Homo sapiens: one gene and its partner. The protein of the gene in region 2 purifies or fractionates together with the protein of the main gene of each other region. This does not show direct contact. Each region holds a gene or a part of one and is shown on either strand. Other genes may lie near its edges.

What was found. Proteins that work in one complex are often made in the same cells at the same time.
Region 1: the proteins of ARID4A (region 2) and FRYL purify together in Homo sapiens (affinity purification with mass spectrometry; one large-scale study listed by BioGRID and IntAct). This does not show direct contact.

Annotation. Positions count from the first base shown.
Region 1 is NC_000004.12:48,500,780-48,504,279, reverse strand, and holds part of FRYL (protein furry homolog-like), read left to right. Parts: intron 1-1,434; coding exon 1,435-1,452; intron 1,453-2,546; coding exon 2,547-2,657; intron 2,658-3,500. UniProt on the Homo sapiens protein: Plays a key role in maintaining the integrity of polarized cell extensions during morphogenesis, regulates the actin cytoskeleton and plays a key role in patterning sensory neuron dendritic fields by promoting avoidance between homologous dendrites as well as by limiting dendritic branching.
Region 2 is NC_000014.9:58,305,055-58,308,554, reverse strand, and holds part of ARID4A (AT-rich interactive domain-containing protein 4A), read right to left. Parts: intron 2,534-3,500; coding exon 2,443-2,533; intron 1-2,442.

The DNA of each region.
Region 1 (3,500 bases), on a different chromosome or scaffold from region 2:
CTGTTTTGAGGGTGGAAGACGCTTTTTATGCAATTTGATCTGTCCTTGTGTACCAGTCTTGTCTTTTGCATAATAAGCAGTCAAATATTTGTTAGATGAATAAAAGAATGTGCAAATTTTAATATACTTTAAAATGTGCATATATATACACACACACACACTCATCCACAAAAACTGCACTGTTTTAGCATATTTAGAGTAATTGCTGGTAATTCAGAGCTGTAAAATTCATTACATTTGTGTTATTTCCTACGATCATAAACTTTATCAGCAGTTTATGTTCCATTACATCCCAAAGTAGAGGCTATACATATATGCTTGTAGAATCAGTTCTACTTTATTTGTGCTAATAGAAGTGAGGAAAGGTATTTAAAATTCAAATTGTTAATTTCCATATGAAATAAACTGTATGAACTAAACCCTCAGAAATTTAGATATGGAATATGCTTGACCTTGGATTGTGCTCAACTGATGTTTATTGGATGAGCATCCACATAATTTATGGTAAGCAGCATGGAGCTAAAGTTCACCTTTGCTTATTTAGCAAATCCCTTCTAAATTGATAGGAATAAACTTTATGAAAAACAGTCCTTCACAGGAAACTATTTAGAAAAGCAGGCTTAAGAATGACTTTTAGAAGATACATTTACGGTGTAACAATTGTTGTTTTAGTTAGAAGTCATTCTCCTCGTAAGAGACCAGATCCAAGTTGCTGTACATGTTTTCATATAGTTTTTAAGATGGTTCATAAATTTTTACTCTGTGTTTTACATACATTATGTTGATTCAAACCTAGTCGGGTTAAGTTTCTGAAACTTACTGAAGTATATTTGGAATGCAATTTAGAACATGCATCTGCTTTTGATATTCCACCCTGTGGCTCAGCACCAGTTATGGCAAAGTAGGACCTAATTAGACAGTAAAGGATAGGAAGCCTGGAATGAGCCACCCTAGAGATAATCTTTTGATGGTGATGGATAAGTATTTATTATGTACGATTATAAGCCAATTCTTTTCTGAGAAGTAACAGTAATTAATTTGTTTCTTATTTTCTAATCATAAGTTTTCCAGTTTACAAATGGAAGTTTTATTACAGTTGGGTTTTGGTTTTTTTTTTTTTAAACCTGGATAGCCAGATTTACCAAGATCACAATAGTTCAGTTTTATTCATTGTAGCTTTTACACAGAAATAAGTCATAGCCTAAATGTAATTTATTATTTGGCAAAGTGTTTAAAAACACCCTGAATCGTTGCAGTAAATGTCTAAAAAGTTTTATTCTGGAAATAACTTTGTATAATTTTCTTTGGGGTATAAATATATGTTCTTCAGTTTACCTGGAACATCTGTGACCCTAGTTAAAATGATTTCTTACACTAATTCTTGGTCTTTTTCTTCCTTTGTATTTTTTGTGACCTGATCACCTTCTTGCTTAGCAAATGGAAATACTAGCAGTAAGTGACCTGTCTTGATTTATAGACTACTCACCCTTGCCAGACAAACTGGTTTTCATCTGCCATTTGTCCATTTGTGACCCAGCAATGTTTTCTCGTGGACTACTTTACAAGTAGTATGTGCTTCAGTTTTGCAAAGCCCTAATCCATGAAATGTTGGTTCTTTTAAAATAGTGAGATGTTAAAATACATAAAATTAGCAGTCACCTTTTTCTTAAACATATCTCCTCTTAAATTTCTTAATTTAAAAAATCAAAGTGCACAACTTTTTTTTTTTTTTTTGAGATGGAGTCTTGCTCTGTTGCCCAGGCTTGGAGGGCAGTGGCATGATCTCGGCTCACTGCAACCTCTGCCTCCCAGGTTCAAGCGATTCTCCTGCCTCAGCTTCCCCAGTAGCTGGGATTACATACACCCACCACCATGCCCAGCTAATTATTTTTTGTATTTTTAGTAGAGACGGGGTTTCACCACATTGGCCAGGCTGGTTTCAAACTCCTGAGCTCAAGTGATCTGCCCACCTCGGCCTCCCAAAGTGCTAGGATTACAGGTGTGAGCCACCGTGCTCGGCCCACGTTGTTAATTTCATAGTTTCATTTCAATGAGATTACCAAGTGGTTTTCTTTAGAAAAATGACCTCACTTTAAAAGACAGCTTTTCTTACTTTTTAGGTAAGAGGTTATCCGGTTTCACTTTGCTTTATCAAGCATTTGTTGATAAATGCAGTGAGATCTACATCTCAATGAGGGCAAAAGTCTTTGCATTTGTAGATTATTTTAATTATGAATTTAAAGTTTTAAATTCTAATGAATCCTTTTTAAAGTATCCTATTAATTGCCTGCTGAAACAGTCTATTTGTAGAATGTGAAAATGTGCTTAACATTAAAACTGAATTATGTAACCAGCAGTGATATTTGTTTTTATTTTAATCTTAGTCTTTAAAGCATATTTCACGTGCCTTTCATCAGCTTCATACCATATTAACTTCCTTACTGCAGAAAAATAAACGACAAGACAATTTTAACTATAAATTTCCATTGGAAATATGCTGTCTAGAAAATAACACCTAAATTTAATGTAATGTTATTTATTTCTAGGAATTGGAGCTCTGCCGAAGATTATACAAATTGCATTTTCAATTGCTGCTTCTGTTCCAGGCCTACTGTAAACTTATCAACCAAGTAAATACGATAAAAAATGAAGCAGAGGTAAATATTCAGTTGTATTAGGCATCAGTAACTGATTCTAAAAAAATTTTAAAATAAAATCTATTACTTGTTAAAATAGCTTAAGTCAAAAGTCACTTAGAGTGAGTCTTTTTTCTTTTAGTTAAGGAATAATTTGTTTTTTAATGATGTGCTATGTCAGGACCTATGAGTAAATAAGACAGCAGATATCCAGCAGTTGTAAAAGGTTCAAGACCTTAAAGGTTTCCATAGTAGACACAGATCATCTATAATCAAAAGTCAAGTAAAAGCCAGGGATGGTGGCACATACCTATAGTCCTAGTTACTCGAGAGTCTGAGCTGGGATGATGACTTGAGCCCAGGAGTTAGAAGCTGTAGTGAGCTGTGATTGCAGCACTGCACTCCAGCATAGGTGACAGAGCAAGACCCTGTCTCAGAAAATCAAAATAGTCAAACAAAGCACATCAGTTCAATAAAGACATAAAACTGTATCATCAACCCCCCTCCCTCAACATGTTGTTCGTATTTCTATAGCTTTTTTTTTTTTTTTTTTTTTTTGAGGCAGAGTCTCCTTCTTTTGCCCAGGCTGCGGTGCAATGGCATGATCTCAACTCACTGCAACTTCCACCTCCTGGGTTCAAGCAGTTCTCCTGCCTCAGCCTCCCAAGCAGCTGGGACTACCAGTGTGCACCACCACACCCAGCTAACCTTTTTGTATTTTTAGTAGAGACGGGGTTTCACCATGTTGGCCAGGCTGGTCTCAAACTCCTGACCTCAGGTGACCCACTGCCTTGGCCTGCCAAAGTGCTGGGATTACAGGCATAAGCCACCGTGCCCAGCCCACATTGTTACAGTTTTATTAGT
Region 2 (3,500 bases):
ATCTTGAGTTTTCTGAATGGAACAGTGCCTTTCAAAATCTTTTTATGAATTTCCTTCATGCACGTAAGTGCAAAAATCTTTAATATTTTGAATTTTTCTCCCAAATAAATCTGTTTTTCCCTGTTTTTATAAGTGTGAACTACCTGCATCAGAATCACTGACATGCTTATTAAAACATTCTTGTACTGCCATCCCCAGGCCTACTAATTGGAGAGGCTTGGGGTCCTCAAATCCTCATTTTTCTAAGCAAGCACCAAGTGATTCTTATGTCCACTAATGCTTGATACCTCAATTATATGCAATTAAGATTCTAAAGCTCTTTGAGAACAAGAATTATACAATTTCTTCTGTAATTATCCAACACAGAAAATCACCATAGAGAATGCTTAGCAGTGACTAGTTTTTAGAAACACTAAAACGCTACTCATGTAGAGGACAAAGGTTGCTATTCATAATTGAATAACTACTCTGGGATAAAGAAACCCAAAATGAGAAAACCTGAAAAGTAATCCTTCTATAGAGCATGCGCATTTTATCAGTAAAGCTTCAAAGTGAGTACAACCTTTATAGTGAGTTAAAATATAAGGTGCAATATAAATATCTGAATATGCATCATATATTTTCCGGTGATTCTACACACACCTGTAATTTTTATCAGGTCTTAGTTTGATAAAGCAAAGATGTATTTACTTAATCTCTAAGAGTTAACATTAAGCTTAGTTTTTATTTGTTTTGAGACGCAGTTTTGCTCTTGTTGCCCAGGCTGGAGTGCAATGGCACAATCTAGGCTTACTGCAACCTCCGCCTCCCAGATTCAAGCGATTCTCCTGCCTCAGCCTACTGAGTAGCTGGGATTACAGACGCCCACCACCACACCCAGCTAATTTTTGTATTTTTAGTAGAGACAAGGTTTCGCCATGTTGGCCAGGCTGGTCTTGAACTCTTGACCTCAGGTGATCCGCCCACCTCGCCCCCCTAAAGTGCTGGGATTACAGGTTAGAGCCACTGCATCTGGCCACTTAGTTTTTAAAATTTAACAACTATCAGTAGCCACAACTAAGCTTCCTAAAAATATGTAGTTCAGAATAATAGCACCACTGTGAACCAACACTAAATTCTAGTAAGTCCAAGAAGCATCAAAGAGGTTTGAAAAAAGTACTTACACACAGCAAATTGGTACTACTAATAGAAGGTACAGGGTAAGACAGAGAAATTTTTAACCAAAGCATAGTTCTTCACAACACTGAGCATCAACTGGATGTGAATGATTTTTACCCAAAGCAACAAATCAAGTAAACTAAAAGTAAACCTAAATGGTCATTCTTTTATTTCTACAAGAAAACCACAAAATAATTATACCACTTAAACCAAGAAATAAGTATAAAAACCAACAATGCTATAGATTGGATGTTATCCACAGGATTGTGCAGTTTGAAAGTACTGAGAGGAGATTTGGAAATGTTACTTAATGCTATTCTCATCAACATAATGACAGCAACTATTTAAGTACTACTTTAAGGTTTTAACTTACAAGTATTATGACACTTGTTGCTTCTCACTATTAATACAATAAAGTTATCTAAAGCCAGTATAAGCTTATGCATGGAATGTTAAGAATGCATTCATGCATTCATATTAGGAGCATCTATATTTTTCTTAAAAGCTGTTTTCTTTTTGAGACCAAATCTCACTCTGTCGCCCAGGCTGGAGTGCAGTGGCATGATCTGGGCTCATTGCAACCTCCGCCTCCCAGGTTCAAGCGATTCTCCTGCCTCAGCCTCCAGAGTAGCTGGGATTACAGGCATGCACCACTAATACCAGGCTAATTTGTGTATTTTCAGTAGAGACGGGGTTTCACCATGTTGGCCAGGCTGGTCTCGAACTTCTGACCTCAAGTGATCCACCCGCCTCAGCTTTCCAAAATGCTAGGATTACAGGCATGAGCCAACATGCCCGACCTTGAAAGCTGTTAATATGAGCACCCACACTGTATCAAAAATCAAAAACTAAGTTAACAATCACCTATTCTTGAATCTACCATGGTCAGGATTTTTTAAATCTGTAAATTGTCTGGCAACATCTACATTACCCTTGTATAAAATATGTAGCAATACAGTAACGATCGCAACTATGCAATTTTAATTGTAATTATAGAAAAAGTGATCACAATCATGTGATCTAACTTTCTTGAAAAGAAACATCAAAGTAACCTAAAATAGAAGTACATTTTTGGATGAAATAGACAAAAGTGGCCAACTTACTGTAAGAGATAATTATTTTTGTTACCTACAGGGCATTCTTAGAATTTTAGTCAGCTATATCCAGTAAACTGACAGGAAATAATATATATTTCTCCACCAACACAATGATTCAGTGTATCCACAAAACACAGATACATGCAACCTCCAAATCAAATCTGTGTTAAATTACTTAATTACTTACCCACGGTATACCAACTAGCATCTGTCAACTTGCTGATAATAGCTTCCTGAAAAGATCCATCAGATGTCCTTGTTTCAACAATAGCTCCAACCTAAAATGTGAAATCCCAATTTCCTTACCAAATTTAAACAAATAAACCAAATCACTCCCACCAACTATATAATCTAGCTAAGAAAAATAAACACCATACTTATGATAATTCTATCTTACACTGTCTGAGATCTTTATCATTCATAGTACTTATCTATTTATTATGCAATTTGAGCTCCAAAACACTTTGACAAAAGTTAGGTAGCTATTATTACCCCTACTTTACACACTGAAAATTGCCGTTCAGAAAGAGAAAATAATATGCAGAGTCCAGCATGACAGCCCAGTCTCTTAAATCTTACTTTAGAGCTTTTCCACTATATCACATTGCCTTCAAGAAAATTAAATCGAAGAACTGTAAAATTATAAGACAACCAAAATAGCATCCATTTTCTTTCACAGAAATAGTGAATATTGGATTCAGCATTTGTATTTAAGGTACCTTTTAGATAAAGGTTCACCTGGAGAGATAGGGATGGACCAGTTGACCTTCTTTCAGTTTCCAGACCTTTGTATATCAGATATTAACCAAAGTGGTACTCTGATATAACAGATTTATTACATAAACAAATGGCCAGAAATGCATGGAAAACATAATCTAGGTATTCATTAAATTGAATTAGGAAGTGAACATAGTTTACTTGGTAAATTAGAACAACCAAAGATTGATGGTTATGATACTCAACTTAGAAGGCTAAACATCACCTCAGATACAGCAACAATGTGAAAAACAAAGCCAGGTATCCAGTTCAAGAATTCAAAACAGAAAGGTAGGTGAAAAACTTAACATGTTTATATATATTAAATTACCCTTCTAGAAGATGTTTAGTATCTAAAACAGAATACAGCCATTGCAATATCACAATTTATACTAATTATATTTAAACCCTTCATATGTATTGTTTTCTGATTAACGTTCTCATAAAATGTTAAGTCTATGTAGAAATGTAAATTCAGTAAATATGGTA